4 separate regions of the Homo sapiens genome follow, and regions 2, 3 and 4 are each linked to region 1. The links come from fine-mapping of genetic effects on gene expression. A gene starts in region 1. Each other region holds a variant in brackets. All regions are shown on one strand. Distances are from middle to middle.

Evidence for each region. PIP is the estimated chance that this variant, and not a neighbour inherited with it, causes the effect.
Region 2: its variant is the best candidate, but not a certain one, in a credible set for the expression of ADAMTS17 in whole blood (TOPMed, PIP 0.54).
Region 3: its variant is the best candidate, but not a certain one, in a credible set for the expression of ADAMTS17 in thyroid (GTEx, PIP 0.64).
Region 4: its variant is the best candidate, but not a certain one, in a credible set for the expression of ADAMTS17 in thyroid (GTEx, PIP 0.74).

Annotation. Positions count from the first base shown.
Region 1 is chr15:100,337,276-100,345,377 of GRCh38, reverse strand. ADAMTS17 (ADAM metallopeptidase with thrombospondin type 1 motif 17) reads left to right here and starts at 3,403. Exons shown (of 22, transcript NM_139057.4): 1 at 3,403-3,557; 2 at 3,969-4,339. The coding sequence starts at 3,479. It overlaps SPATA41 (spermatogenesis associated 41), which reads left to right. Exons shown (of 2, transcript NR_028139.1): 2 at 1-921. RefSeq lists an enhancer at 4,551-5,069.
Region 2 is chr15:100,051,538-100,059,639 of GRCh38, reverse strand. It overlaps ADAMTS17 (ADAM metallopeptidase with thrombospondin type 1 motif 17), which reads left to right. Exons shown (of 22, transcript NM_139057.4): 16 at 5,586-5,743; 17 at 7,909-8,068. Among named protein-coding and RNA genes, the nearest start is that of ADAMTS17, 290 kb to the left of the region's middle. The variant T/C (reference allele first, on the strand shown) is at 4,407.
Region 3 is chr15:99,975,442-99,983,543 of GRCh38, reverse strand. It overlaps ADAMTS17 (ADAM metallopeptidase with thrombospondin type 1 motif 17), which reads left to right. Exons shown (of 22, transcript NM_139057.4): 21 at 7,322-7,499. LOC105371022 (a long non-coding RNA gene) reads right to left here and starts at 7,321. Exons shown (of 2, transcript XR_001751713.2): 1 at 6,953-7,321; 2 at 2,770-5,034. RefSeq lists enhancers at 873-1,851, 6,661-7,256, 7,257-7,852. The variant T/C (reference allele first, on the strand shown) is at 4,097.
Region 4 is chr15:99,949,731-99,957,832 of GRCh38, reverse strand. No RefSeq gene overlaps it. Among named protein-coding and RNA genes, the nearest start is that of LYSMD4, 220 kb to the right of the region's middle. The variant A/G (reference allele first, on the strand shown) is at 4,844.

The DNA.
Region 1 (8,102 bases):
CCTTACATTTTCAAAGGAGTTCCATTCGTAAGTACAGAACGCTCAGAGAAGAGGCAGCAGATCTAGGATATGGAGCAGCAGCTCTTAAGGGCACAGTGGGAAGGTTTCAAGACTGAGGAGGATCTTGGATTTGGGTAGGGGAAGGCAGTTCACAGTATTGTGGAGGAAATGCTGTGAAAGAGAAAGTGGAAGGCATGGAAGCTTAAACTTTTAATATGACTGGTGAATACAAGGATGAAGGGCAAAGGGAATTCAGACTCATGGTGGTCAGATTAAGACCTTCAGCGGCTCTGTCTCCCAGCCCCACATACCCACTTCCATGTTCTGCTCTTTACTGAAGCTGAAAGTCTGCAACCTTCATTCTCTGACTCCCTTACATTTTCTTAGGCTTCTTGCTAGCTTCTGCCAAAAAGAGGCCCTGGCAGGAGATTAGATGGCAGGAGGCAGAGGTAAGGATTCCATGTTAACAGGTGCTGGAAGTTGCTGGTGTGGCAATGAGAACTGGGCCCCGGTCAAGGCAGCACTACTTTGGTAGATCCAGAATCAACCATGATAACCGTGACAGTGTCTTCAACAGTGCAGCAGTAGACACAGGCCCCTGGTGCTGGAATCCAATACAGGGACAGGAGCAGCACGGAGTCACGGAACACCGTCTTGCCTTCATGTCACTTTACCATTTCTTCTTTCTCCCTCTTACTCTACCAGCTACCTGTGGAGATGTTGAACCTTTTATCTGTCGCTGTCTGCTTAGGAACAGAAGAAAAGGCAGCTGATTGCTTGACTCAGCTTTCAGCTTGATTTTTTTCCTTTGGCAGAGTGAATTGGGGTCCCAGGTGTTCATTTTCCTTTTGTAGTACCTTTCCTCAGCATGCAATTAATACAAAAAGAACAATAAACCTTAACAAAGTTTGGCTTGTATTATTCCAGACTTTCCTCTTGGATTTTATGTACACTTATCTGAATCCATGCAGATCATGTCATGTGTGTCTGTGTGTTTATACACATTTTTTTTTCGGTGTGCCTCATTCTGCAACTTGATTTTTTAAAAAATTCGATAACTGATCTTGGAGATCTGTCCATGTTGTTACATATATGAGATTTTTGTATTTCCTTTAATTAATGGTGTTCAAGTAGCCGTTTATGTAACGATGAACATTCAGGTTTTTGCAATTTTTTGCTCTTAATAAGGTGCCCTGGTGAACAAACATTCTTGTACATGTGCCAGAGTTTCTCTGGAGTAATTAACCAGCGTGGAATTACAGAGTTGTAGAATGTGTGCATTTTTAGTTTTATTAAAACTAAAAAGTAAAACTTTAATTTTACAGTTTGCCCAATTGTTCCTCAGAGTGGCTGTGCCAATTTATACTCTCCACCCCTAGGTAGGAGAGTGTCCTCTCTAATTCTTGATTTTTCTAAGCTCTTTAATTTTGGTTAGTTGGGAGATAAAATAGTATCTTTCTGTTTTAGTTTTCATGTCCCTATGGACTAATTTTAGCATTTGAGCATCTTGGATAGGTTCTTGATAGGTTGGTGATGGCTACTTCAGGCTGACTTGCGCTTGTGAGGTGGTGTGGCCCATACTCCATGGTTTTCAGTGGCAGGCCTTAGAAATGGCTCTTTTTGACAAAAAGATTCACTAAGAAACTTACTGTGATATCTTTAAAAAAATTAATATTTTGTGAGTACGTAGTAGGTGTATATGTTTACAAAATGTATATACATGAAATTTTTTGATATGGCCATACAATGAGTAATAATCCCATCAGGGTAAATGAGGTGTCCATCACCTCAATCACCAAGGTTTCTTGTGCTGCCAGAAAATGCTACTGAGCTGTCAGTCATCTGAGGTTGTTGACCTGGACAGAGGCAAGGGGGAGAAACACAGCCCCAGGCCTGGCCAAGAGCAGGACCTGTGCAGATGCCCCCAGAACTGTAGGTGCCAAGCAGTGAGGGCAGCCCCTTTTGTGGCAAGCCTCTGTGGAGGGTCACTGTTCAGCCTTGGGGTTCATTATATTTCGGGGAAGGTGGCCAGTGTTATAGATTCCTTCAGATGATATGTAATCCTGTGATGAATTTAGATTCCGAGGCTTCAAGCAGCATCCAGCGGGGAACTATAACCTTTCTGCTATGATAAAATGGAAAAGAGCAGGACAGGGAAGGGACGGGAAACCTGAGATTGGTTATGGTTACACTTAATTGTTTTTTTTGTTTTGTTTGGTTTTGTTTTGTTTTTTTGAGATGGAGTCTTGCTCTGTTGCCCAGGCTGGAGTGCAGTGGCACAATCTCGGCTCACTGCAACCTCCACCCCCCGGGTTCAAGCGATTCTTCTGCCTTAGCCTCCCGAGTAGCTGGGACTACAGGTGTGCGCCATCACGCCTGGCTAATTTTTGTATTTTTAGTAGAGACAGGGTTTCACCATATTGGCCAGGCTAGTCTGGAACCCCTGACTTCGTGACCCGCCCGCCTTGGCCTCCCAAAGTGCTGGGATTACAGGCATGAGCCTCTACAAGATGCTATTCAGCAAGCTAATGGAGTCACCTTCCCTGCAGACCTCAGTTATATTGTGGCAGGAAAGGATCAACTCATTCTGTTTCTGGGAGACTCACGTTCAAGGCTAGGCTTTGGGACTTTGTGCCTCCGTTTCCTAACCTGTAACACTGAGTCCTGCTTCCCTCGGGGCGGGGGGATCCTGCTGTTAATAAGAAGCACCAAGCCAGAAATCAGGATCACAAATTCTAGCCTCTGCTCCAACAGGAACTCTCTGGGTAACTTCAGCGTTTTTCCTTAAGCTCTCTCTCTTCCTCAGTTTTTCAGTCTGTAAGAGGGTGTGAGCATGCGTGTTGCACTGGCTCCTGTGGGATTAAAGAAGACAGGAGGTGTGAAGAGTTTGGATAAACGCCGCGGATATAGCCTTCAGGTGCTAACTCAGGTGTGCGGGAAAGTGGACTGGGAGTCTTTGCGGCCACAAACAACTAAAACCTAACTTCAGATGTAAAGATTATATGCAGTTTTGGATGAAACCGCTTGGCCGGGGCGATTTCCGCCCTACCTTCCCGGGAAACTGGGCAGCAGGCTGAGAGAGTTCCAAAATGAGGACAAGCTCTGAAGACCAGCCCCGCATCCTCCAGCTCTTCCAGGGTCCCACGGCTCCGGTCGGCTCCCGCGCGCCACCTGGTGCCGTGTCCCCGCCACTGCCCAGAAACCACGTGTAAGAAAGCGCTGACAACCTAACTACGCACTGTGGTTTCGACCCATCCCAACCAGTAGGGAAGGAGGAGGCGGGGCGGAGGAAAGCGAGGGCCCAATCCCCTCCCGCCTTCCGAGGGGAAGGCGGGGCTTGGGGTTTACCACGTTGGGTTTGTCCGCAGCGCTAATTACTTTTTCCAAAGGCTGGAGGGCTTCACTCCGGCTGGCGCCGCCGCCTAGCGCGCTCCTGCTTCGCCGCCACGGTCCGGGGGGGCTGCCGGTCCCGGGTACCATGTGTGACGGCGCCCTGCTGCCTCCGCTCGTCCTGCCCGTGCTGCTGCTGCTGGTTTGGGGACTGGACCCGGGCACAGGTAGCGCCCCCTCCCACAGCCCTCTTCACCCCGCGTCCTGCGGCTACCTTCCCTCTGCGTTCTCGCGGCGTCCTGGCGGCCCGGGGGCGGCGGCGGGACCGCTGACGGCGCCCGAGCGGAGGAGGCGCGGGCCGCGGCCGGAGTACGGGAATCGGGTGGCTCCGTGGCAGGCGCGCCGCCGCCGGGTCTCCGCTCGCCGATGCGCGGCGCCGTTCCGGGAGGTGCTCGCGCGGCTGCGCCGGAGACCCTCCCCGGGTGGCGCGGGCCAGCGTGGAGGTGCCGGGCGAGGGAAGGGAAGGCAGCGCCGGCTCCGGGTCGCGCTGTCCCCGCGCTGGCGCGGCTGGCGGCCAGCGGGAGGGCGGGCGTCCGGGCGGGCCCCGCCGCGCTGACGCGTCTCCTCTCTCCCCGCAGCTGTCGGCGACGCGGCGGCCGACGTGGAGGTGGTGCTCCCGTGGCGGGTGCGCCCCGACGACGTGCACCTGCCGCCGCTGCCCGCAGCCCCCGGGCCCCGACGGCGGCGACGCCCCCGCACGCCCCCAGCCGCCCCGCGCGCCCGGCCCGGAGAGCGCGCCCTGCTGCTGCACCTGCCGGCCTTCGGGCGCGACCTGTACCTTCAGCTGCGCCGCGACCTGCGCTTCCTGTCCCGAGGCTTCGAGGTGGAGGAGGCGGGCGCGGCCCGGCGCCGCGGCCGCCCCGCCGAGCTGTGCTTCTACTCGGGCCGTGTGCTCGGCCACCCCGGCTCCCTCGTCTCGCTCAGCGCCTGCGGCGCCGCCGGCGGCCTGGTACTGCCCGCGCCACCTCCGGGTCGGCCCGTCCGGTCTGTTGCGACGCAGAGTGGTCGCCGTGGAGGGTGGGGGTGGGGCGCCTCTGCTGGAAGTCCAGCCTCCAGGGGAACCGGAGGGAACCCCCTGCCTTTCCACCTCTCCCCATCCCCCACCCCGGCCTTCGGTACCCTCTATAGGCAAAGGGGGTGGGAGGGGCAGCATCCCAGTCCAGCGCCTCTGCAGCCCGTGGAACCCGCGCGGAGCTGGGGTTGCGTGGGGTATACGCCGCCCGCTCTAGGGAGCGCAGATCTGGCAGGGATGAAACTGTCAGGGCCCTGGACAGAGGCGCCTTGGCCCCAATGTAGAGAACACTGCATCTGCACCGCCGTGTCAAAGTGTATGTCACGGGAGTACCTGTGTACGTGTAGGTGTTATGTTCTTGGACTTGGAGGTGGGGGAGTGGGCATTCACCTCCCTTCCTTTTGAGTCTTCTCTCTGTACCTGGAACAGGAAGTTTGGAGAGGTACCCAGACAGGCCACGGCTCACCCCACTCTTCCTAGCTGAAACGTAAGAAACAGGAGAGAAAGGGTGTTTGTCTTTGCTTCCTTATACTATTAGTAGGCATTTATCTGGTGCCCACCCCCAACCAGGCCTGAGGGGTGTTTACATTGGTGATAAACCCTATTCCTGCCCCCAGGAGCTCCCTTGCTGTGGCAGTAACTTCCCTGCCCCGAAGTTCCTGGCCTGTTGCATTTGAGGCACCCGGAACAGGTGCTCCCAGGGGGAGGGGGGGTTCTTGTGTGCACTTGCCCTGCCTGCGCGCACACTTGATCATGTGGCTACACTGGCGCCCAGACGAGCACTCAGCTTCTCCATCGTGCCCCGAAAGCCGCACACATGGCCGGCAGATGGGCTGCCCCCAGCGAAGCTTGGTATGGACCCAGAGCATGAACCGCAGGGGTTCTCTGTCTTCTGTCATGACTGGCCTCTGGGGAGGCAGTTTCTGATATTAGTTTGTGTCTGTCCTTCCCAGGCACAAGAAACTGCTCCCCACACCTCCACCTTTTCTTGTGCCACCATCTAGAATTCTCCAGCCCTTACTCACAGAGTCTGTGGCGAGTCCTCGAGAATCTACGAAGCTAGAAGGCTGGGGGTGCAAGGTCTTATGTGAGACCTCTCTTTCTTCCCAGTCCTGCGGGTATCTCTGTGTGTAGTTTCCTAGATCAGTCTGGCTCTCCTTTCAGGAATTTTCTGAGTTCTGATTAGGGTATGATAGACTTTTGCTCAGCTGGGAAAAATAGGCAACTTTGGTGAAACAAGGAAAGTGATATAGACCCTTGGAGGGGGCCTGGTAGGAAGGAGCTAATGTGGACCTGGGGCGGGGAATGTGGACCTGGGGCGGGGAATGTGGACCTGGGGCGGGGAATGTGGACCTGGGGCGGGGAATGTGGACCTGGGGCGGGGAATGTGGACCTGGGGCGGGGAATGTGGGTTGTAGGCAAGGAGGCTTAAGTAGGAGTGAGAAAGGCTCAGATCACTGTAGGGCTCGGGTCAAGGCTGTATCATGTTCTGGGAGGGACTGGAAGGGCCACATCATTTTTCCTGTTTTTGCCAAAGTGTTTAAAGTCTAAGTCACATCATTGTACTGTACATGGAAACATCTGAATCCCATTTGCTGCGGTTTAGTGAGTTTCTGTAGAGGTCAGAGTTTATACTTCTTGGTGTAAAGTTTCCAGCAAGGAGCTATCTGTGAAGGCGCCGAGGTGGAAAGCTGGATAACATTGATTTAAAATCCTTGCAGAATGAGGGCTGGGCCCTGTCATAGATGGCATCTCAGCCAGCTTCTCGGCAAGACTGTCCTTCCCTTTAGCACCATGTGAGGGTGCTGTGCTTTAGATAAAGGAACCTGGCCAACAGGCTGAGTTCAGTGTGTGCCAGTGGCGGTTGTACCTCTAAGACTTCAGCTTTTAAATTCCTGCCGGAGCAGACACTTCTGTTGTTTAGTCTGCCTTGTTCATCCCGTTCGTGTGAGCTGGACATTGGACACTTCCCCCTCTGTACGTACTGAAGGCCGGAGGGAAGAGACAGTGGGGTGACTTGGAGGTGGACCCTTTGTTTGCAAGGTGGTCCTGAAAGCGTAAAGAAAAGAAAGCAACAGGAATTTGGGCTAACCAAGTTTGCATTGCAGACTAGCTTTGACTTTGGTTCTCAGTTCAGGTGGCTGATGATGTTGTGTTAGTCCCTCTTGACTGTGGTACTGTGGTAGAAGCTCTGTGAGTGGAGATGTGGAGTTGTGTGTGTGTGTATTTGCTACGACAGGCTCGGCTATAAGGTGTGGGAAGGGAGGCTATAAGTAGATGATTTTTGGTGGCCATGGAGGAGGGGCATTTCGAAGTGTCCTTGTATCTAAAAATGAGCAAGAGTCGGGCAAACTTCTTCTCTTAAGGACCAGAAAATAAATAGTTTAGGCTTTGGGGGCCACATAGCCTTTGTTGCAGCTGCTCAAAGCTGCCCTTTCAGTGTGAAAGCAGCTACAGCTACGGATGGCATACGAGCGAATGGATGTGGCCACGTTCAACAAAACTTCGTTCCGGATGTTGAGTATCATGTTAATTGCTGGTAAGTCCCACTGTATTGAACATCTCCTAAAGGGCTCAGTAGAGAGTGTTGAGTGCCTGGGCTGGGGGCACACACGTTCTATTCCATGTTGCATGGAATCTGTGCTGTTTGTCTCCAGAGATGTTTGCTGTCTGTTTAAAGGAGACGAATTATTAGAATAGATCATTCCGTAGCTGTTTAGGGGCCATGGAGAGTAAAGCACCTGTTCCATTTTTGCTCCTTTTCCTTTTGACAGCAGATAGAGGCATGGGCCTGCCGCATTCCTTTCTTGGTGTCTTATCCTGAAAAGCTGGGCCAGCTGCGCCTTTTGGATCTTCAAAGGCCATAGACTTAAGTATTAATTGTTTTCTGTTTATGCTTCTTCATTGTATTTACATTTCCAAGAGTCTTTAGAGCATGGGTTTTTTGGAAGTGTTTCTATGAGCATATCATTTCAAAGCATGAACTTCAGGTGTCTGAGGAAGGCCTTTACACTCTTCGTGAATTTATGTAAGTTCGGATCAGCTGCCTCTGTGATCAGGACTGGATCGTGGAAGGCCAGTGGAATTGGAATCAGGCTGAACTTCATAGGTAGACAGGATAGCGGAGAGGGCACTTCAAGAACAGCATGAGCGTCAGGCTCTGAAAAGAATCTTTGCAGCTTGTCTGAAGTGAGTGGCTGGAGGACTTGTTTTAGGAAGAGTGAACGAGAGGAGGGGAGGGCTGGAGGCCCCCTGCTGTCGGGTTTGGTCTGCCAAGCAGTGGCCATCCTTTCTTGGATGATACTCACAAAGCTTGGGAAGGCCACCCACTGGAATGTGTCCACCCCTTCTTGGAAAAAGCTGTGGCCTGCCAGGGGCACACTGTGAGATGGTGGGACCAGACAGACCACCAAGGAGCTCTGGGCTGCAAAACATTAAGCCATAACCGCGTTCCAGGTCACCTTGAAGGACTGTGAGAAGGTCAGGGATCCACGTTCCAGGCCACCTTGAAGGACTGTGAGAAGGTCGGGGATCCTCCTACCATAGCTCTTCTGTTGCCACAGCCACATGCTGTAGGACTCTTATTTGGAATCACTGGGGTCAGTCTGGTGGCCCAGCCCACCTCACTCTGACTGGTCAGCCTGACTGCAGACCACGTGTCCATGTTGGTAGCACGTCATTTGTGGCACATGGGACATTC
Region 2 (8,102 bases), 290 kb after region 1:
TTCACTGTTAAAAATGATCTTGACGTCCCAAAGGAATCTCTGAGGCTGACATCTCTTTTGAGGGATGTCAGGCGCGAACTTCTGATTTTAGCAGGAAGTTATGATTTTTCAGATGGACCACGGCAAATTGCAAATTTGGAATCTTGCTAAGTGACACCAAAGTGAAAAGGTTGGAAGTAACCCCTATGCCTCCTGGCTCTGCTGACCTCCTGCTAATAACTCTGCCTGTGTTTTCCTCTCCCCGGGAGATACACAAATGCGTGGCTAGGAGCACGCTGTCCCGAGGAGAGGCGTGCAGGCTCTGAGCTGGAAAGCTGCATTTGCAGTGCGCCAGAACTTGCAGCCACTGCGGCGATGGCCACAGGCAGTGCGTGGGCATGCCAAGTGTATTCTTTCTGGGGCTGTGAGAGCTGACCCCAAACCCACGCCTGGCCTCAAACAAGTTGTGATTGTGCAGGAGTTCTCCAACTCATCGGCTCCAGACCAGGACCTCCAAAGCAAAGACAAGCATCTTCAGAATTCGTTGGAGTGCCCCCACAGCTGTGTGTGGCTTGTGAGAGCCAATTAGAGGCATCTCTTCCCCACTCCTTGTTCACTGATGCCAGGTGGATAGCAAAATCTGTCATGGTGAGGGTATTTACACTTTGGGAAGCAAATACGCCATGACTCTAGGCTATTTTCCCCAGAGAACCGGCTGCCGCTAGCACTCTGTTGTCCAGTATGTTCCTTCCCATCAGCAGTTGAGCTTGCCTGGGTTTGTCCGTCAGCCGCAGCCTCTTTCGCTTTCCTATCCCACAATTCCTTGACCATACCCAGTGACTCCTCCGTGGCCTCCAGTAGCCCTCTTCCTGACACCTCTCCCACCCATTCCGCTACAGACAAGCAAGACCCCGCTCCGGTGATCAGAGGATGGCAGGCTCCAGGGCCCTAGTGGCTCTATCTCCACCTCGTGCTGTAGTTGCTGCTGCTGCTGCCGCCCAGTGTCGGGCCTCCGATGGCAGAAGCAGGGCTTCCCCAGGCCAGCCGCCACCTCTGTGCAGCGTTTCTGAGGATGGTCTTATAACCGTCTCCAGGTGTGCCCTCCTGCCCTTTTTTGGGCCTTTTCACTCTTGACTTCCCAGATGTTTTACTTTTGGCATGGAAGTGGGGTAGTTTGTAGGTTGTCATTCAGAGTCACTTTAAAACATCTTTAAAAAAAGGGCCCGAGGAATACATAAACAAGGCCAGTGGAGAAAGAGTCACCTCCTCAGGAGTGTTAGAGCTGGGATAGGAGGGTTAGAGCCGGGATAGGGGTGTTAGAGCCGGGATAGGGGTGTTAGAGCCGGGATAGGGGTGTTAGAGCCGGGATAGGAGGGTTAGAGCCGGGATAGGGGTGTCAGAGCCGGGATAGGAGGGTCAGAGCTGGGATAGGAGTGTTGGAGCCGGAATAGGGGTGTTGGAGCTGGGATAGGGGTGTTAGAGCCGGGATAGGAGGGTTAGAGCTGGGATAGAGGTGTTAGTGCTGGGATATGGGCAGAGGCCCTGGAGGGAGTTTGAGGCAGGGGTGGAGTGTGCCAGGCCTTCTGCCTCTCAGGGGTACTCAGCTGGGTGGTAAACATCTGGGGCCTATTTATAGGAAGCTGTAATAGTAATTTTCTTTCCTCGCCTGTTCTGCCCTCATCGTGATTAGCTTTTTTTTAACCCAACCTCCAAAAAGCATGTGTGAATGCCAAACCCAGCTCTCAGTTGCTGAGCACCAGCTTCAGGCACTGCTGGATCCAGGGGCTTAAAATGATGTCACAGGAGAAACGGTTTCTCTCCGCACTGGCACTCCTGCCTGTCCTCTCTGTGGACATCTTCCTGTGGGCTGGTAGATCCAGGCTCACATCCAGTCTCTGGGAAACCCTGTGGGAAGAAAGCTGCCTTTTCCTAAGGTGAACAAAAGTCCCCCTGTTTGGGGTTGGGTGATGGGCCTGTGCCTGGAACTGTGGGGTTCAATCCCACGTGACGGGAGGGAAAACATGTTCCCAGGAGAAACCCTGGGTACCATTGCTTAAAGGGAGAAACAGATGCCGTGTCATGGGCACAGTGGGTGTTCACAGAAGCAACAAACCAGGGACGAGCCTGGGGCCCCAGCTCAGGGCAGCCCGTGTTGGAGTCTGTCACTGGCAGGGTGTGGATATGGGACTCAGCCGGTCCGTGCTGGTGGCCCAGCAAGGAGGAGAGCAGCTGCCTGGCTTCCCTCTGGTCTTTGTGAGAGAAATGGGTTCTACGGAGCAGGCCCTGGTGTGGCTGTGGTCAGCACACAGCTTCAAAGAAATCATTTGCTCATCTCTGTCTCCTTTGTACAGGGCACCTCAGCATGCCTGGGTGTCCTCTATCCTCACAGTGAGCCCCTTCCTTCTTCCCACCCTCTGAGGCCACTCTCCCTCTCTTGCCTCCTTTTCCCAGCCAAACCTCTGAAAAGTGGAAAAAACTTTACCTTCCACTTGCTTCTCCATATGGGGTGCTGTGCCTTCCTCCCTCCATCACCCCGCCCAGAACTGATCTTAGCAGTCCTGGCCTCTGAGGATCAGGAATGACCGTCCTGCCTCACACACTGCAGGCAGCCACACACCACTGAGCCACACACTGCGGGTGGCGTTGTCTCCTCTCCCTGTCTTACACGCTCAGCTGAAAGCGGGCTTATCCCAGGAAGCCTTCCCCATCTGCCCCGTCCCACAACATTCCCAGGCCCCGGAGGCACCTTACCATAAAGCTTGTGAAATTGTGTTGTGTTCATCTTTTCTCTCTCTCCCTTCCAAACTGTGAGCTCCCTGGGAGCAAGAGCTGTGTCTGTCTTTAGCCAGCAGTGAGGAGGCCCTCAAAATAGGCTGAGGGAATGGCAGGGTACATCTGCTGTTCCCCCAACTTATGCTTTCTGAGGTGTTTCTTCAAGCAGAAGTCCCCAGACCCCAGGTTGCGGACCAGCAGTAGTCCATGGTCTGTTAGGAACCAGGCTGCACAGCAGCAGGTGAGTGCCCTGCGAGCGAGCATGACCGCCTGAGCTGCGCCTCCTGTCAGATCAGAAGTGGGACATTAGATTCTCATAGGAGCGCAAACCCTATTGTGAATGGCACGTGCAAGGGATCTGGGTTGTGCATGCCTTATGAGAATCTAATGGCTGATGATCTGAGGTGGAAAGTTTCATCCCAAAACCATCCCCCGCCACCCCACTTCCCCCAACCCCCTGGTCTGTGGAAAAATTGCCTTCCACGAAACCAGTCCCTAGTCCCAAAAAGCAGTCCTGGGGACTGCTGTCTTAAAGGACTCTGGCCCCTTGGTTTTTTCTATCTGCTCCTTCCCACCAGCCCACACTGGATCCTAAAACCAAATAGACACATGCATATGCAAGAGACAATTTTCTAAACCTGCAGAAAGCTTGAAAGAATGATGAACGTCCATGCACCCTTTGCCTATATTTGCCTATAGTTAATATAACCAAGTATGTATTTGCATTATTAGCTCACTAGAAGCATTGGAAATCCGTGAAATCAGTCACTGTTGTAAGGGTATATAGAATATGAAACCCTGTAACAGAGCGTAGAATTTGTCCTTTTTGAAAACAGGCCTTACCTTTGCACATTTCAGCATTAGTCATAAAATCTAGACTGATGCTAAAGAAATGGGAATTGAAAGTTGTCAGAGTGATAAGTGCAGTAGGGTTGGTCTGTTGGATTCAGGTCTCCACTCTACAACTGAATAGCTTTGTGATTTTGGGCAAGGTACTTCTCTCTGCCCCCATTGCCTCACCCATGAAGTGATGACAATAATTCAGAGGGTTGTTGAGAAGATTAAATGGGTCAGAGTATATGAAAGAGCCAACCTAGAGAATATGCACCTTAAATGGCAGTTTGCAGATGGTGGCAGAAGAAGAGAAAAAGGAGAGGAAACTGTGGGTGTCCCAACATTCTCACCTCCTTTTCATAGCCAGGACAGTTCAGTTGTGGGTTGGATTTCTTGAAGGGAAACAGATTCGGCTCCAAGTGGCAGGGCTTTCTCTTTCCTAAGCTGTCCCTGGAGTCCTATAATCCTCAGCCTCTCATAGCCACCCTGGATACGAGACCCCACTGGAAGCCACTCTGCTGGAAAGTTCCTAGAAGCGAGGAACCTGTTTCTCTTGGCAGTCCCTCTAACACGAGAAGCCCTGAGCCTGCGTCTGTGTGTTTGCCGGGAGCGAGCAGTGGGACCATAATGTCCTGGAGACAAGAACTGAGGCCAGTGACTACCCAGCGACCCTCTGTTGCTTGTGGCCTGCTCCAGCCTGGGGCTGATGAATTCAGCAGTAACCAAAACCCCTTTTGGGTTTCAACTCTCATTTTCCAAAATCAGTATTAAATGTGGGCATTTTATTTCTGGCCTCAGTAAGCAGAGAACAGTCAATGCAG[T/C]AGAATCTGATTTCATTGATATGGACTGAGTAGGGTCCCAATGAGATATATGTAGATCAGTTTGGGGTGTCCTTGGGGCTCCAGTTGTGTGTACAGGGAGTGTGGGCATAGGACTGAGGGTGCCCTGGAGTTCCCATTTTGGGAAATGACAGACTTACTGTCACCTCTTGTCATCTGCCGACTTCTCCTAAAATGCCAGAATAGGTTTTAGTTGTTGGGATTTTTTTTTCCCTAAATAACAGCAGCAACAAAATAGGATGTCACTGCAGAGTGCTGTCCTCATGAGAACCACATGATCTTCACCCCGAAGTGGGAAGACACAAGAAAAATCCTGGTGAGCGACTCAGAAAATAGTAAATACATGGCTTGTGTGGAAAACCAAGTTTCTGCTTATGGCCCGTCAGCAGCATGTTGATTCTCAGCCCCTCCTGGCACAGGCTGTCCCTGGTAGAGATGTGGGTGAGCAAACGTGAGAACCTGAAGCCCACAGAGCTAGGGTGTGAGAGTGCCTCTCCCCTGCTACGCTCAGCCCCCAACCACTGCTCGTCCACAGCTGCCAAGTGTGACCACCACATCTGTGGGTGGCTAGGGTTTCCAAACCTTCATACTTAACAGAGTAATGGTTATTGATTGAAGGGACGTCCACTTTAGTAATGGGGGGATATCAGATCCTTAAGAGGTGCTGGAGATGGGCTCTTCTCCTTCTGGAACCCCAGGTAGGTAATAGGAAAGGGAACTGATGAGTTTTGCTAAAGCAGCAAAACCTGGTTTGTAGCCTGGGACACATTAAAATGGAATGAATTCATCAGGCAGAAAACCATCTGCTGGATAAGTTTAGTGAAATGATATCAGACCATGGTCTTCTCCATTCCCTGCCCCTCCACCCCTAACCCCAGCTATCTGAGTTGGTTTTGAGACAGAAGCCCAGGCTGAAAGGTGCCCATCAATCCCACAGCTCTCCCTGGGGATCCTAGGGGTCTGCATCTCCGTGCTCCCTGCGATCCAGGCTTTTGTTCTCAGTATACAGAGCACTCGCCTTCTCTCGCTTCAGGCCTCCCTCCTTCCCCCTGTGGAAGGGAGACCTCTGCCCCACTCAGGGGCTGTAGATTCCGTTTAAAGACAGGCTGGATCCCCCTACCCCCAGCCCCTTGATTCTTTGGTCTTCAACTTGCTTTCTAGCTCTCAAAGACTCGGGTAAGGGGTCCATCAACAGTGACTGGAAGATAGAGCTCCCCGGAGAGTTCCAGATTGCAGGCACAACTGTTCGCTATGTGAGAAGGGGGCTGTGGGAGAAGATCTCTGCCAAGGGACCAACCAAACTACCGCTGCACTTGATGGTAACTTGCTGGGCTTCCACACTTGTCTTAGGGGGTGTGGCTCCGAGAGGTCTACTAGGTTACTTTCCAGTTTACTTCTGCCTGGGACCTCGGGGGCAGGAAATGCATCTGGCTTCCAGGGGTTTATGCCGTCCCCTGCTGCTCAGTCCTCTCCCCTCTCTGGGTCCTTTCTTTTCCAGTCCCTTGCACAACTTGCTTCAGAATTCTCTCATTGCTTCCCCTGGCTCTTCCCTGGCCGAGCTCCTATCTTTTTCAAAAGGAGCTGCCTCAAAGAAGGAAATGCTTAGCCACGTGGATGGCAGCCAGGGAGACTTGGCCTCATTAAGCAGACAGCCCCACTCCAAGTCTGTTTTTGCATCGGTTGGTGAGATGCATAGATCTGCCTGCACAGAGTGTATATCATTACCTTTCGGAAATGAACTATGACTCCAGGTCCGAACTGGAATCCCTCAGGTTTCACAGACCCAGCTTGCAACGAGCATTTGGGAATCAGGGAGGGGGATCAGATGATGTGGGTATTCTACTCCCCAGGTGACCTCCAGAAACCTGTGAGCCATTGGGCCAGGCCAGGGCGCCGTCTTACCTGTTGTCTCAGGGAGGCCTCCATGCAAGCCACTGAAACATCAGTGATGCCTCCTTTTAAACATGTCAGAGATCTCCAGGGAATGGAGCGCCCTGCTTCCGTCTCAAGATCCAGGAGTTCTCATGGCTAACTTCTGATGGCTCATCATTATCGATTCCGGGTCTCCTTCCAAAAAACAGGATTTGTGGCAGCTTGTGCCCCTGTAATCAAAACACGCTTTGTCCACAGTGCCTGCCAGAGTCTCTCCGTGGAAGTTCTTCTTCCCCGTTAATTTGTGATCTCTGGCAGCCTGTAAGTGTTCCAGGTTAGTTGACACCCAAAAGATTTTCTAGCCATTGCCCAGGGAATCTCCTGAGGAGGCTGGCTCTGCCGGGGAGCGCTGGCCCCCAGGGTGGGCGTTGCCCCGTAGTGGTGTTAACCCCGTTAAAATTTCTGGGGAGACAAAGGTAAGGCAGTTTTCATGTGCAACCAAACCATGTAGAAATCTGCCAGCGCACCTCTCAGCCCGCTAAGTCCACTGCAAATACGTTCCTGCAAGTAGGTTTCTGGGACCCAAGAATGTGTACCTAAGTCATTTATCTGGGATAAGATTGTTCCCTAGTCACAGTCAGAACAAATCCTCCTATTCTGAGTTAAAAGCAGTTATTCAGAGGGACTAAGAGAGGAGGCAAAACATAAAACCTGTACTGAAACTTCACCTGTTAGCATGAGAATTTGCTTTCTCTAGCAAACACCAATGTGAATGTATTTCCCTTTTCACCAAAAGCCTTTGTAAACTGAGCAAGTGGTTAGCCCGTTAAAGTGAAGTCCCCAGCCTGGATTCATTCAGACCAGGATGAACAAAACTCGGAGAAAGCAACTACTACCGTAACTGAAGTTTCAGCCCTCGCTTAATATTGATGGCTTTTCTTTCAAAATGTGATTGTCACTTCAAGATTTTAAAACTGAAAATGAGAGGTGCCCCTTTGCCTCTATATAGAAAGCCATGGTCCCCAAACTGGGGTGTACACATTGTTTGCAGAATCAGTATCACCAGTGAGCTGCATTTTGCCCTTGAGCTTGCCTTACTCCTGACTCTGGACCAACTGACACAGCAGTGATTGATGATGGGGAGTGAAGGAAGATGTTCATTTCCAAAGAAATAGAGTCACCCCAATTGCTCTGATGCCTTTCTAGGTAAAAGTTTATCTGTGTCTTTCCTGTCTGCAAGGGCAGCTTTGTGGGTGAGCATGCAGGAATGTGGACTGTTCTCTGCGTGACGCAGCTCTCCATCAAAAGTGCAGTGAGAGGTTTCAGAGTCACTTATCCTAAAGCTCCTAGTCTAAGCTGGTCTCTCTCTTGGGTAGGAAAGAACAGAACTCCCTCACGATGGTTTGCATTCACCCCACTCCTCAGTTGAGTCCCTGAGGAATCCAGGGCTGAGATAAAGGAGCACCCTCAGTGGAACCTGTTTTCAGCCCCAGAAAAGAGCTGGTTACCCCTCATAAAGAAACAGCCGCAGTGTGCCTGTGTGTGCAGATTCGGCATTCCCACGGGCCTTCCTTCCTTTTCAAAATGGCCTTTTGTTTTGCGGCTGATCCAGGTGTTGTTATTTCACGACCAAGATTATGGAATTCATTATGAATACACTGTTCCTGTAAACCGCACTGCGGAAAATCAAAGCGAACCAGAAAAACCGCAGGACTCTTTGTTCATCTGGACCCACAGCGGCTGGGAAGGGTGCAGTGTGCAGTGCGGCGGAGGTGAGTGGCCGTGGTCCATGACCTGTTGGGTGTG
Region 3 (8,102 bases), 360 kb after region 1:
TTGGGATCTGGTGTTATTTACAGTTGTGATTTTACAGCTGGGAGAAGCTAGGGGAAGGGAATCCCGCTGTGGGGAAGGATGTCATCAGGGTAGGGGTGATGGAGACCTGGTTCCTCCCCTGTTGGGGGTGGTACGGGCAGGTGGGGGGCAGGGGCAGGCTAGCTGTGTGGCTTGGGAAGACTTACATGGACGCTCTGAAACCTCACATTCTGCCTCTCTGAAAGGTGGCGCCGCATCCCCAGCAGACACCACTTATTGAGCACCTACTGTGTTCTGAGCTCTGGCCACGGCAGCTGTCAGTGTGAGGATTAACAAGCTCGTACGTAAGCCCGGTCCCCCGTACACAGCAGACAGGCAGGTGGTGGGCCCTGCTGCGACGGTGACTGCCGTTACTGTTATTATTAAAGAAGCTAGTAACGCTTGCACAATGTCTCAGTATCACGCTGGTCTGGGGAACCTAACACCTTTTCTCTTTTTGCCGGAAACTCTACCTAAAGGAAAATCTCTTTTACACAGTAACTTCATGAAATAATTTGCACACAAAAAAAGCACATGAGTAAATCCAAATTGAACCTCTTTTTGCCCTTTGTGCATCAACAATTTTGTTCCTGTTTTTTCCAGTGACACCCCCTCCCTGCCTGGGAAGGGTGGTGGACAGATGCAGAGGCTGCCTCTCCACCGGGCAGCCAGCTCCGACGCACAGCTGTGGGCACCTGCTGGGGAGGGGGCTCCACTCACTTCAGGTTTCCCGGCAAGGAGCTTTTCAGCTAAATTTATTGCTGCCCCCATTTCTCTCAGTTACCTGCATCTTGGGAAGCCACATGAAATTGGATGTGATGAGCCCCTTGACAAAAGGACCAAACAAGACCAGATATGTTTTTTATAGATCTGTTTGCTTGGATGATTAAAGCCTGAAAAATGGCTTCACAGCAATGCTTGGGGCAAATTCGATGCTATCAGGAGACACTACAGTCTCCTCACTGTTCAATTAACGTTGAAGCCTTAGGGGAGGCCGACAGAGAAGGAATTCACCCCGTGCGCCCACCATGGCCCAGCTCAGGTTACGAGGGTGTCGTTCAACAGCAGCCCCTTCAGACCTGTCTGGAATCATGTTTGTCTTCAGGGCCAAAACAGCCTCTAATTGTGCTCCCTGAGGTCTGGCTGCCTGATCAACTCAGGGAGCCAGGCAGACAGGGCTGTGTGCACCTGCCTGTGGAGGGCCTGGTGACCGAAGGGCAGCCCAAGGAGTGCTAAGGGAGTGGGCCAGGTGACGCAGTGTGCCTTGCTGGGCTGCAGGAGCTCCCTGCCCAGCTCGCTGTGGCGCTTGGCCGTGCATTCACTGTTGAGAATAATAACAGCAGGATTTGTGGAGCTCCACTCTATCTGAGACCCCCGGCTAGGCTCCTATTCCACACTGCCTCTACTGCAGGAAACAATTCTACAAACAAGAGTTTGTTATCCTCATGCTGCAAATAAACTGAGGCTCAGAGAGGTTAAGTCATTTGCCTGAGGTCACACAGCTAGTAAGTGGGGACGTAGCATGCCAACAGGCACCCCTTCCCCCTGCCGCCTGACACCCCGCACTGCATGGCCTCTCCATCAAAACTCTGCTTTAGGAGAGTATATTACCTGTGGATTTTAGGCCAGGGCAGGCCTGGCAGCACCTCAGCTCAAATGAAAATGCAGCTGGTTAGGATGGTGGGCCACCAGCAGGTTACACCAGACTCATTGGCAGAATTCTCCAGTTTTATTTTTAATTATATAAGTAGCTCTTACTATAGAACACACTAAAAGGAAAATTAGTCCCAGAAACCATATGATGACATGGTAAATTTTTATAACGGTTTGTCTTCCAAACTGTTACATAGGTATACACACATCTATATTAAACAAAAACGGGGTGGTTTCTGTACATGCCACTTTGTAACTTGTCTTCTCACCTAACACATGGAAGCATCCTCTAGGGGGCTGGCCCAGACACAGCTCCAGGCAGTTAAGCAAACACCCCAAAATTCTCAAAAATTCTCCCAGGTGAGTCAGAGCCACTCATAGCCCACAGCTGTGTGAACAGTGCCCACTAGGACTCCAGCTAGAATTAAGCAAACCCTAATTCTGATGAGAGTAAAATGCCTACAAGGGGCAGAGCCCTTGGGACCACCTGCCCTCAGAACTGCCTCACACCTGGCCCTGCCTCATGGGGGCACTAGTGAACAGTGAGAACAGACACCTGTCCCTGTTGAAGGACTTTGGAGACACCCTTCCATGATCTCATGGAGCAGTTCTATTTATAGACTGGAAAATTAAAAGCCAGTGACCCATGCTAGGAAAGATAATGAGTAAATGGTGGAGATGGGCAGTGACCTGGTTCTTTGATTCCCGCTTCCGATTAAAGCTCCATTCAGTACAACCTCTTATTCACATAGGAGGGTGGAATTCATTCCATGAGATGGGGTCCCTGGACCACTCGCCACTCCTACCTCTGCAACTTTGAGCAAGACGTGGACCCGTGCCAACCTCAGTGGCCGGCATCAGCCCTGAGGATTGTTGTGGAACGTTCCGTGCTGCCGTGGAGGCCTACGAGGGGTCCACTGGGAAGAGCAGGCATACCATCTGCATATGCTGGAGACGTGCCACATGTCAGCCTTTTCCCCTCGGCCCCAGAGCAGGCTGCACAAGACTAAGACCTTTCAGAGGGGACACGTCTGCAAGGTCACCTCAAATGCCTGAGTTTTACGATGGTCATTGATCATTTCCAGGCAGAAACCTTGCCAATGCTGCACTTGGTTTTAATAGACGCACAGGGTGAAGCCCTTGCCCTTGTGTGATTTTCACATACATATCAGCAACACTCGCAGAAGAAACGGAAGCCCTTCCTGGCACTCCTGCAGGGCTGAGCCCCTTAACAGCAGTGATTCAGTGGGACTGACTCCCCAGCTGGCAGGGCACGGACACCTCTTCAGGAGATGCAGGGGAGTGAGGCGGGTTCCTCCATCCATCTGTGCAGTTTCCTCCCCAGAAATCCAACAGCCCCCTGCCCCATGCTCCTCTCTCCAGAAAGGAATAGGAGGCTGCCTGCCTTTCCCTCCTGGGTACATGTTTTGCAGTAGAGGCGGCACTGTGGCCAATGGCCCGAGAAAAGATCTGAAGAGAAAAGGGATGTTGGTGTTGCCTGCAGGTCGGCAGGCAGCAGGTGTATCTCTCTGTTTTTAGTTTTTACTTTTTTGAAACAGAGTCTTGCTCTATCACCCAAGCTGGAGTGCAGTGGTGCAATCTCAGCTAACTGCAACCTCTGCCTCCTGGGTTGAAGTGATTCTCCTGTCTCAGCCTCCCAAGTAGCTGGGATTACAGGTGCTCACCACCATGCCCAGCTAATTTTTATATTTTTAGTAGAGACAGCGTTTTGCCATGTGGGCCAGGCTGGTCTCGAACTTCTGGCCTCAGGTGACCTGCCCACTGCAGCCTCCCAAAATGCTGGGGTTACAGGTGTGAGCCACCGCACCCAGCCCTCTGTTCTTAAGTGGGCCTCATACGTGCCAAATAGTCACAGAAATTAACCCTGATTATATGGTAATCCCGTTTTCCCAGGAAGCAGGGTTTCTTTTGAATTACATAACACATTTAGATATAAAAGTCTCTAGTGATGTAAGTGGACTCATCAAATGCCTGCCATTAAGTAACTTATTGATGTAGTTATACATTCATATTTAAAGTTATGCATTATAAACATTCAAATTTAGAAATGTTGCTATTTTCCTTGGTATGTTATAAAATGGAGCCTTATGAAATGGATGCTTTGAGGTCAAAACAGTTGAATAGAAGCAGTTTTGTGTGGTGCAACCTGGTGATTGTAGTGTTGGTCTCATCGTCACCAGCTCCACTTTGAGTCGCCTGTCGGTTTGCCAGAGGGCACGTGGTTGTATCTGACTTCACTCAAATGCTGCCCTTTTTTCAGTCTGTCCCGCTCCCAGTGGACCACTCGCGTGGTTTTGCAGGGGATTGGCGTGACTTCGCTCTGCGTTTAGCGTTCGGCTCCGTGGCTTTGTTCCGCATTGGGAACGTTGGCTTTTCCCTTCATCTACCACATTTGTGTGGACTC[T/C]CAGTTTCTGGGTACAACTACTTACCAGATTGCTTTTGTAAGTGATTTTTTTTTTTTTTGAGATGGAGTCTTGCTCTGTTGCCCAGGCTGGAGTGCAGTGGCACGATCGCAGCTCACCACAACCTCCACCTCCTGGGTTCAAGCCATTTTCCTGCCTCAGCCTCCCGAGTAGCTAGGATTACAGGTGCACGCCACCACGCCTGGCTAATTTTTGTATTTTTAGTAGAGACAAGGTTTCACTATGTTGGCCAGGCTGGTCTCAAACTCCTCACCTCGTGATCCGCCTGCCTCAGCCTCCCAATGTGCTGGGATTACAGGCGTGAGCCACCGCACCTGGCCTCTAAAAAGAATTTTGACTGAAAGCCTTTGCTCCCTTACCTTTAGGCACACCTGTCATCTGGCTATAGACTGCAGTCAGGGCTGCGCCTGGATGTTGTTCTTGCTTAATTATACATATTTGTGTGTGCAGAGACACAACTACTCCTTAACAGGAAGAAAAGAGAGCTCTTTGCATTCTCCACAGGGACCTGAGAGGAGGTTCAGGTTAAGTCGGAGGCCCTCGGTTCTGAATGCCCACTGCAAGCACTTGGAGAGCTTTATAAACACTGAGCTCTGGGTCTTGGGACCCCCTCCACCATCGGATTGTATTGGTGTGGGATTTTTCAAAGCTCACCAGGTAGCTGCATGCAGTAGATCCCAGTGTGCAGCCAGCTTCCTCCAAGGTGCCCCCAACACCAGCAGGGCGGGAGTCGCGTTGCTGTAGCACCTGTCTTGTGTTCAAGGCGGGAACTTCCTTGTGTGACTTCATCCCTCAACCTCAGCACTCCTCAAACTTCCATGCGCCTGATGCCGACTCCTGAGGTCTGGGATGGAGCCCTGAAATCTGCATGTGTAATGCATGAATTTGAAAGGCCATGAGCTGCCTCCGAAGGGTTTATCTAAGAAAAGGAACAAGGCATGAAGTGGGGAGGCCCTAGGGTTGGCCTGGCCTCTCGGGTCAGAGCCCGGGTTCCAGTTTGAACGTGCCGGGGGCCCACTAGGGAGCTGCTTATAGTTTTCACACCTCCTTTGTGAGCTGAAAAAAGCAGTGCCCCTTTAGAGCAACATTCCCTCTGAATGTTTATCACTCTAAAGTGAAAAAAGACACACAAAACCTGAACCTGCTTGTCAGGCAAGGAAGCTGAGGAATCCACCTGGCTTGCAGAAGCCCCCCTGGGAGCAGACAGCCCTCCCAGGCACAGATGGGACACCACCGCCTCCCACGCAGCCTGTGTCTGGAGACTCCGCATGACCCCCAGGAAGGTCCTTTCTCCAGCAAGGCCAGGGTCAGGACCAAGAGTGAGGACACGGGAAGCACAGGATCTGCGGGGCACCTGCCTCCCTCACCACGTGTGGCATTCAGAGAACAAGGCTGCGCCCAAACCCTCCACGCCCTGCTCCCCTCTCTCCACCCCAGGTGCCATTCCTAGCTCCAGCTCGGCTGCTGTACCGGTTTTGCTGACTGCTCTCAGAACCCTGTAAATCAGGGGTTGTGTGGGCTCTGGTGGACACCAAAGTATACTCATGGACCTGGCTGTCTTCCTGGGAAGAGGCCAATGTAAGGGAGAAGAGACCATTCCAAGGGCTCCTGGGAGAAAGCAGGGGCCGAAAAGCTCAAGAGCAGAATCTGAGTAGAGGACTCAGATACCTGGCCAGTTCCTACCTGGGAAATGCTTTAAGGAGTGTGAAGAGACACCAGGCACGGTGGCTCACTCCTGTAATCCCAGCACTTTGGGAGGCCAAGGCGGGCAGATTGCCTGAGGTCAGGAGTTCAAGACCAGTCTGGCCAATATGATGAAGCCCTGTCTCTACTAAAAATACAAAAAAATTAGCCAGATGTGGTGGCAGGTGCCTATAATCCCAGCTACTCAGAAGGCTGAGGCAGGGGAATCACTTCAACCAGGGAGGTGGAGGTTGCACAGTGAGCCGAGATTGCGCCACTGCACTCCAGCCTGGGTGATAAAGCGAGACTCCATCTCAAAAAAAAAAAAAAAAAAAAAAAAAAAATTATATATATATATATATATATATATATATATATATATATATATATATATATGAAGAGGAGGGACGGAGAACAGAACCACGAAGTCTTAACCGGGTCCACTCCTTGGGAATTTGGGGGCCTCTGCTCAACTATGTTGACCAGGTTTTAGCAAACACGGCACCTCCTCATGCTGGGGCTGGAGATGCCAGCAGCCAGGGATGTCTAAATCAACACCGTCAGCCACATGTTAGTGCGTGACTCTGGTATGCAAGAAAGGTTGTACTTTGTTTTCTTTTACTTAATTCTAAGCCCCAATCCTCCAGGCTTGTGGGAAATTCAACCCCAGTCATTACTGGGCTCTTCTCCATGCCCAAGACTGGGCAAAGGCCCCGGAGCCTCAGGCAGCAGACAGTGCTTGGGAGACCTCTGTGGTCATCAGGCCCGGTCCTTCCTGGGGGCCACCAAGCCATGCTGCTCACCATCTCAAAAACGTCAGAGCCTGGAGCAGAGGCGAGCGGTGGAATGCAGCTAGCATGAGTTAATATTTCAGCTGTTGTCTTAACATCTTAGTCTCCCCTGGCTGCTGTCACCAAGTACCGAAGCCTGGTGGCTTAAACATTTATTCCTTACAGTTCTGGAGGTGGAGGATCAGAATCAAGGTGCTAACAAATCCAGTGCCTGGTGAAGACCCTCCCCGATTTACAGACCACGGTATCCTCTCACGGTGGAGAGCCAGCAAGCTCGGGTCTCTTTCCCTTCTCACACTATTCCCAGCATGGAGGCTCCACCCTCATGACATCTAACCCTACTCACCTCCCAAAGCCACCCACCTCCACGGCTCCAACATCTGCATTTTGCAGAGACACAAACATGTATTCCATAACATCTTGAAACAGTCTTCTATCAGGCAGCTGCTGTTTTTGCCCTGAATGATTGCAAGTGCCTGGGCATGACACACAGTGCCCAGCCCAGGGGCAGCCACATTGTGAGGCCATCGTCCCAGCCCCCTGACCTCGTGTAGGCCCCACTCAGGCTGTCCTGTCTCCGCAGTGCCACATTGTGAGGCCATCATCCCAGCCCCCTGACCTCGTGTAGGCCCCCACTCAGGCTGTCCTGTCTCCGCAGTGCCACATTGTGAGGCCATCATCCCAGTCCCTTGACCTCATGTCAGCCCCACTCAGGCTGTCCTGTCTCTGCAGTGCTCGTCGACCTGCGGGAAGGGCCTGCAGTCCCGGGTGGTGCAGTGCATGCACAAGGTCACAGGGCGCCACGGCAGCGAGTGCCCCGCCCTCTCGAAGCCTGCCCCCTACAGACAGTGCTACCAGGAGGTCTGCAACGACAGGATCAACGCCAACACCATCACCTCCCCCCGCCTTGGTGAGTGTCTTCACTGGCCCCGGTTCCCAGGGGGCTGCTGTGTCTCCTGCCCAGTAAGTCCTCCCTGACGGTGAGGTTCTTTCAGCCAGAAAGCCCCTTCTTGGGCCTCACTTGTCACATAAGGCTGACATTTGTCAGTTCTGTAGAAGAGGTTTCAGAGATGGATTCCATTCCTTGTTATGGAAGTGGTGTTTGCTTACTGCTGTCTCCAACACAGGCACCTGAGCGTCTCCCTCACCCCTTTGCCCAACACAGGAGAATGTTCCACAGACACTGTAGGTTTCCTGTGCATGAGGAATGTGAAGGGAAGTGCTTCTTTCTAGAAATGAAAGCTCCAGGGGCATCCTTCATGATGCCATGAGGATGCACACATGGGGCACACCCCAGGCTGATGCTTGAGCAGCAGACAGGCGTGGTTGGAGGGGCTGCAGACTGTGTGAGTGGTTTGGCCCTGGGTGCTCGGAACCTGGCCTCTTACCAGTTCATGCCCCAGGTCAGTGGTGATACAAGGAGAAGAAGAGCACTTAAAGATCTGGCTGGTTGTGGTGGCTCATGCCTGTAAATCCCAGCACTTTGGGAGGCCGAGATGGGTGGATCACCTGA
Region 4 (8,102 bases), 390 kb after region 1:
AGAGGAAATGTATTGAGATCATGGCTGGGGATGTGCAAGAATTGAAGACAAGAGTGACAATGCACAGAAGTGAATCCACACCTCATACATCATATTGAAACTACAGAGATCAAGGAGGAAGAAGAAATCTTAAAAGCAACCAGAGAAAAGACAGGCACCCTGGAAGGAATAACAGTCTGACAGCAGGTGCCAGAGGGAATGGAATAGTATCTTAAAGTGCTGAGAGCGGTCGTAGCCGTGGCTGTTTAGTTCAGCTATTAGCATTCCATGGAACAGACTGTGGGGAGCGCCACTTCCTCCTTCTCCAGAGTCTCCCACAATTGACAGCGGACATTTCTCAGAATCCCGGCTCCCGCCCGGGGACTGTGTGTCTCAATGAGTGGCTCCACCTTGCTCCGTTTTTACAAAAGTGAGAAACCTGAGAGCCAGCCCATAGACAGAACCTCCCCAAGTCCTGTCACTTTGGTTTTTTTTCCTTTTTTGTAGAGATGGGATCTCACTATGCTGGTCTCGAACTTCTGGCCTCAAGGGATCCTCCTGCCTTGGCCTCCCTAAGTGATGGGATTACAGGCGTGAGCCACCGTACCCAGCCCATGTCCTTTGTCTTAAATTCCCACATGTCCATCCCTGTGGGCACTGCTCCGGCTCAGGCCTGTTGCAGGAGCCGCCTGGCTCGCCTTGCTCCCTACCACCTCACCAATACCAAAGTCACTCTTTTCAGACCGCTAACAGGGGCTCCCTTTACTGCTTCCTACTCAAAGCTCTCCCAGCTCACCCTTCAGGCAATGTGCTCCCCCTGTTGCCCCCTGCCCATGCCTGGGATCCCCATTGTTCCAAGCCAGGGGTCTACAAACCAGGGCTCACCGGCCACACTGTTTGGATACCCCCTCTGCCCAGTCCCTGGCTGTGGGGTCATTCCCAGCTGTGCCACATGATCGCTTTCAGCAAAAGCCTGCAGGTAACTCTGGGTGCCACACTTCTGACTACTCTGAGAATCGCATCCAGTCTGCTCTACCCCTCTGTATAAGTTGATCCTTTAGAAAGGCATAGGAATTCCAGGCAAGGACAAAGCCTCTTTCCTGTGGCCTTGCGTGTTGTTCCAGTCCTTCCCGGAGCCCTTGTTCTTCCGTGCATCCCCCATACCACAGCCCACACCACCCCTCCCCACATGCCTTCCTGGTGGGCACCAGAGCTTCCCCTTCCATTCTCCACAGTCTCTTTCATGCCACACCCTGGTGGGTGCTAGGCAGGACATAGGCTGGGTCCAGGTTCCCCCTCTCAAGTGGCATGAGGCCCGTGCCCATCCACAAAGGACCCCCAGCCCCACCAGGGATGAGAATCCAGGGCTGAGGTGCAGAGCCACGTGGAGGCCAGAGAGCTGTGCTCCTGGGTGTGAGGAGATATAACCATGTCTTTTATTTTCTGTTTCCTGATGCTTTGACATCTGGGGCCTTGCCAACCCTGAAGGGATGGCCCCTCCCAGGACTATTTCCTAGAGAGAATAAAGAACTCACCCCCACAGCGTGCTCCTCAAATGTGAGCCAACCAATCCAGAGGCCACACCCCTGGCCACACCCCCATCCTTCCAGCCACCCCCACCTCCCCGCGTTGCCCCAGGGCGAGTACCAGGCAACTAGAGACAGGCCCAACACCCCAAAGCCTGCAGAAATTAATCAAACAGGCCAATCCCTGGCCTGTCTACCCTGCCTTGCCCAGTCCTTCCCATGGAACCACAGTAGAGGCTCTTGTCCATGTTTTATTCCTGCTGCCTCTGCCTCCCGCCCAGTCCTGTGCTTCCTGGCACGACCCCCCATGGCACACTCCCTTGTCTTGGGAACTGTGAGTAACAAACCATCTTTTCAAGGGCAGCTGCCTCCTGATCTGTTGGTCCTGCTGTTCCTCACATTCTCTCTTAATGTATATTTTAAAACAGAGGGTAAAGAAGAAAGTGGTCAGGACTCTTGGGAGGATTAGAGACAGGAACATGGGGCCTATTTGCCAGGACGGGTGGGTTCTAAGGGAGGGGAACAGATGGGTCATGCGTTACGTCAAGGCAGGTGGTCAGCAGCTACCTCCTGCCCTGCCACGCCCCACCTACCCACCCTCGGCCTGCCCGTGGACTGCACTTCCTCCTCAGGTTGGAAAATAAGGCAGACTCTTCCAGGCTCTCTTCTAAAGGAGAGCACACCAATAAATCAAACACCAAAGTATGCCTTCTTCTCATTTTATTCTAATGCAAGCATCCTGGAGTCTTCTGTACCTTCTATCCATGCACCCTGCCCTCCAGCCCTCTCTCTGTAAGGCTATGTAACACATGGCCTTGTCTGAACCAAAACTGCCTCCCAGAGGCTGGATGGAATGCTGGCTGCAGGGTCTGGGTCCTGAGGCAGATTGATGGGTGAACCCATCTCAAAATGAGATCCTGCTTGGCTTTGAGTCATGAAGCCCCCTGAAAGTAATCCAGGACTGTCGGCCACTCTACAGAGTGGGTGCAGCCACATTCCACACCAGGAAGACCAAAGCCAGAGAGGCTGTCACATCTCTCAGAGCCACATAGCAAAGAGTGATTCACTCTGCTTCATGCAGTCCATGGAGACTCACAGAGGAGAGGACACCTGAAGGAGAAGTGAGGATCTGGCAGGCAGAGGAGAGGAAGGGCTTTCTGGACAGAAGGGACAGGCTGTGCAAGGGGACAGAGGAGAGTGGGAAATCGGTGGCACATGAGGTGCAGCATTGTGGGGTTGATAGCAATTGAAACCGGAGGTCCAAAGACCAGCATGTTTCCAGTTTTGCCCCCCGCCTCCAGGGCCCACCACAGGGCCTCGTGCAGATGAAGGATTCAATAAAGATTTCCTGATGAATGAATGAGTTTAAGACACAGCCATGGACAGAGACGTGGGACCTTGAATGCCAGACCAACAGCATTTTGCCTTCTGCTCAGAGTGGGCCAACTGGGCTCCAGGCAGAAAAGGACACCTAATTAGACCTTCTTGCTTCTACAGAGATCATGCCAGGATAGCCAGGGGTGTTTCTGGGCTAAGCTGGATGAGCTGGTTAAGCCATGCTCTTGAAATAAATAGCTTGTACTGTTTGTCCCCCAAGGACAGAACATGCTTCGTGGAGCCTGTCTCATTATTCCTTGCAACATACATATGCAAAGCATTAGCGGGCAGATTTCCCAGCTCTGGCTTGTTTAGAGAGTGAAGATTTTTGTCAAGGTCACACAGCACATGAGGGGTGAAACTGAAAGCAGCAATGACCCTCAGCCCCTTGTCCTAACCATGTTCTTCTCTGATGCTTTTCCCCCTTGCTTCAGCCAGGGGCCAAGGCTGACCTACCAAATCATGACTCAGCTCCTATCTGCGGGTTAGGCCCAGGACAGGGTCTCCTCCTCCAGGCTGGGATGCCGGCTCCCCACAGCGGAGTGTAACTTGCTTACTACGGTGTGGCTCTGTCCTGCAGTGATTGTCACCTCTGGGGGCCAGGCAAGATTCAAGCCCCTGAGGGGAGAAGGAGATGACTCATGTATGCCTGAAAGAAAGCAGGAAGGAGGTAGAAACTGGACCCAAATGGAAGAGCCTGGCCTAGCCCCTTGGGAAGTAACCAGAAAGCTTCCTCACCCAGCAGACCTCCTTGACCTCCAGAAGGCTCCAGCATGCTTATATGATTCCCAATTCTCATTCCGGCACCAGAAAGCTGGCCTCTCCGCTCCATTCCACAGTTTTAACAAATATTGAGTGAGTTCTCATACGTGCCAGGCACTGCACTGGCCACCATGCACGTGGCAACTTCCACATCCATAATAGCATGGGCTCTGTGTTAAACACGTTAGAAGTCAAGAGATACAGTGGTAGACATGACAGACACAGCCCTGCCCTCGTGAGTTTACAGTCTGAAATCGTTGTATTTCAGAGAGTCAGGGCAATATAGTTTTGGAAAGACTACAAATCCTAGTCAGAGAGACCTGGATTCAAGACACGGGCCTAGCTTCTCACCAACTGGTTACTAAACAATGTGAAAATGGAAGTTTGGACTGACATCAATATGCAGAGATACCATGTGCCCAAGACAATACCTGACCCCAAACCATCAAACCAAAACCCCTTACCCATGGGTATGGATGTAAAAAAGCTGGGCTTTGGTGATTAAAATATTTCTTTGGAGATAGCCACTGGTGTGCCTCGTTCCAGCCCTGCCAATGAGGAGATGGTACCTCCCACCCATCTTGGGCCTAGAAAAGAAGAGGGGCTACATGGAGACCTCAAAAGGGACTTCATACCATACACGTACCCAGATGTTTAGGCAGCATAGTGGATGGGTACCTGGCTCACAGCTGAGAAATCCAGATGGAAAGAGATTGGCCCTTTGTTGGCTGGGGCTGCCAGGACAGAAAGCCACAGAAGTGGCTTAAACAAAAGAACTCTATTTCTCATAGTACTGGAGGCTGGAAGTCCCAGATCAAGATCCAGCAGGGCTTGGTTTCTGGCGAGGGTGCTCTTCCTGGCTCTCAGACAGCTGCTGTGTCCTCCCATGGCCTTTCCTCTGAGCACTCTTGGAGAAAGAGTGAAGGAGAGTTCTCGGTGTCCCTTCTCATAAGGATACTAATCCTACGGATGAGGGCCCCACCCTTATGGCCTCATTTAACCCTAATTACCTTGTTATAGGCCCTGTTTCCAAATTCAGTCACACTGGGGGTTAAGGTTCAACATATGAATGGGGGGCAGGGGGACAATTCAGTCTATAGCAGGCAACCTAGCTACTTTGATGGCAGAGGAAGGGAGGTAGCTGCACCAGAATCAGCCTGCACTTTCAGAGTGTGTCAGAGTAGAGACAGTGGGGGGCC[A/G]TGTACGAGAGACAGCTGATGTGCGGTGGCTTAGGTCCTGTCCAAGGGGACTGTGTGGTGAGGAGACAATAGGAGAATACCAGCTGTGATCCACCAGCGTCCCTGGAGCTGAAGAAGGAGTACTAACCGCAAGTAGAGAAAAGCCCATCTTCTACATCAGCCTGCAGGAGAGAGATGTCAGCAGATAACAGGGTGATGGATGTGTATCTCCAGGCCACCTATGAACGTGCTCTAGGAGGCAAAGTTAGCTCTGAGCACTTGCAAGGCCCAGAGAACAATCATATTTGATAGTCACATCAGTATCTGCCAAGAAGGAACCTTCCTGGTCCCCTTTCCCCTCCACCTGCCCCCAGCCCATGGAAGACAAAGAATTCCCAGGTGGGGAAAGCTCTAACAGGCTTACTGTGGACTCTTCCCCCAGGCAATCTTCCTCCTGAAGCCAGAAGAGAAAGAATAGATTCAACTTTAAACGAAATTCAGAGTTGTATTATGCCACGAAACTGGATAGTTTTATTACTGAATCGAGACCATATTTTGCAACTTAAGTTGACTTGAGAAAGTTGACTGGGAAACTATTTTTATTACCTTGGAGAGACCAAAAAAATTCATGGACCAAAACTTTCATCCAGGGTCAGGGGAAGAACCAGCCCCAAGAATAGATTTATAGAGACAGTGAAGAGGTGGCAAGAACATGCTTCATGGGGACTCCCCCGACCTGGAATTTGTGTGTGTTCAATGCCACAGGTACACATGCTACATGGTTTGCCATCTTAAAATAGGGATAATATAACTTGCCATGGAATATTGCTCTGAACGTTAAACTACATATGTTAATGTCTGCAAGACACCTAGGACAGCACCTGGCACTCAGTAGGTCCAAAGACATGGTAGCCAGTGTGATTGTTGTTGGTGATAGTGTAGCAAGAGCATTAAGAAGTACCTAGAGGTTAGAAGTCTCTGCAACTCCGAGCTTGCTTTGTGTCTTCTCCCTCCAAAGTTGACTCTCATGTTAAGGTCAGTTTCTAGTACTATGGAATTCCAAGGAAGTTCCAAACTGCAAGGAAATCTGACCTCTCTCTCTCCCCCAAGCCCAATACAACATTTGAATTTTATGTGGAAATCTTAAACCTCTCCTTCTCATTTGGTCTCACTTGGAGCTTTGAAAATATAAGATATGCCATATATGGTTTCTCCCCAGACTCATGCCGAACACTAGTCACTGTTTTCCAGAAACCTCAGCATCTGCTCAGCTATCTAGCCCCTGGGATCACTGCGAAATTGGACTAATACCAAGGACCGGTTACCACAGTACGTCATCTACTCATGAATACTGTTAAGTGAGCTTGGTTTCAAGAAACCTTAAACCTTCAATGCATAACTCAATTCAGTCTTTTCTTGGCATTCCAGAACATGATTAATGGTGACGCCATGCCACAAATAAGTTATACATGGCTCAGAACTCTAATTCACAATTGATTAGTCCATGAACAATAGCCCTGAGTAACGTAGTGTTAATGGCCAGCCCCGGTGGTCTGTTCCTACCAGAAACCCATTACTAAGTCCACCCTGTGTTTTACAGCATCCCTACTGGAGCCCAATATCTGCTTATGGGGGCAACTGCTTTGTTTAATGGTTGCTAGCCACGTGCAATTAGCTAGAGTAGAACAGACACTTTAGAGGTTACTGCTTCAGCCTCCTAGTGAGAGGATGGGAAATATGATTTTTTAAAAAGTCAGTTTGCCTTCAAGTGGATCATATTCCCACAGACTGGGAAATAGATGCCTTCACATTGTGCTTTGGATGAGGGCAGGGAGAAAAGGCAACCTGTAACCAGTGATTTCCAAAGGCAGCAGGGGTCACTGGCTGCATGGGCAGGAAGTGAAACTCTTACAGGCCTGCCAGGTGGAATGGAAGGATGTCTGAAACTGTAGGGAAGGAAGATACATCAGACAGTGAGAGGGAATGAATGTGAAGACAGGGGGGACAGGTGGCAATGAAATGTGAATCCACATGAAGAAATAAACAGCACTGATAAAGGTAACTACATAGGTAGATATAAAAGACAGTACAACTGGAATTTTTGTAACTCCTTTTCTCCTATTTGTTTTAAAATAGGAGAAAACTATATGAAACAAGCCTCTGTCAATGGACACATAATGTATAGAAATGTAATTTATAATAAGAGCATAAAAGAAATACACTGTGACCTATATGAGAAAAAAAATCAAGAAACAATCCCACTTAATATCAAGAAACAATCCCACTTAATAATATCTATCAAAAAATAGAAATAATTAAGGAGGGCAAAGATCTATACACTGAAAACTATAAAACATTGATGAAAGAAATTGAGGAAGACTTCAATAAGTGAAAAGATATCCTGTGTTCCTGGATTGGAATAAATAATATTGTTAAAATGTTCATACTACCCAAAGTGACCTATGGATTCAATGCAACTCCCATCAAAATTCCAACGACATTTTTCACAGAAATAGGAAACAATTCTAAAACTCATATGGAACCATAAAAGACCCAAATAGCCCAAGCAGTCTTGAGCAAAAAGAACAAAGCCAGAGGCATCACACTACCTGACTTCAAAATACACTACAAAGGTATAGTAATCAAAAGAGCATGGCACTGGCCCCAAAACAGACATATAAATCAAGGAAGCAGACTAGAGAGCCCCAAAATAAATCTACACATTTGCAATTGATTTTTTCCACAATGATGGCAAAAATACATGATGAGGGGAAGGACAGTGTAAATTAAATGGTGCTGGGAAGACTGGATAGCCACATATGGAAGATTGAAATTAGATCCTTATCTCACACCATATACAAAAATAAAATGCATTAAAAACTTAAATGTAAGACCTGAAAATGTTAAACTATTAGAGGAGAACATAGGGGGAAGTTTGATGACATTGGTCTGGGCAATTATTTTTTGGATATGACCCAAAAAGCACAGGCAAAAAAAGCAAAAATACACATATGGGATTATATAAACTAAAAAGTTTCTACACAGTAAAGAAAACAACCAACCGCATAAAGAGACAATTTACAGGAGAAAATATTTGCAAACCATACATCTGATAATGGTTTAAATCAAAAATATCTGAAGAACTCAAGCAACTCAATAGCAAGAAAACAAATAACCTTATTTGTTTTTAGTGAGCAAAGGACCTGAATACACATTTCTCAAAAGGAGACATACAAATGGCCAACAGATATATGAAAAAATTTGCAACATCACTAAACGT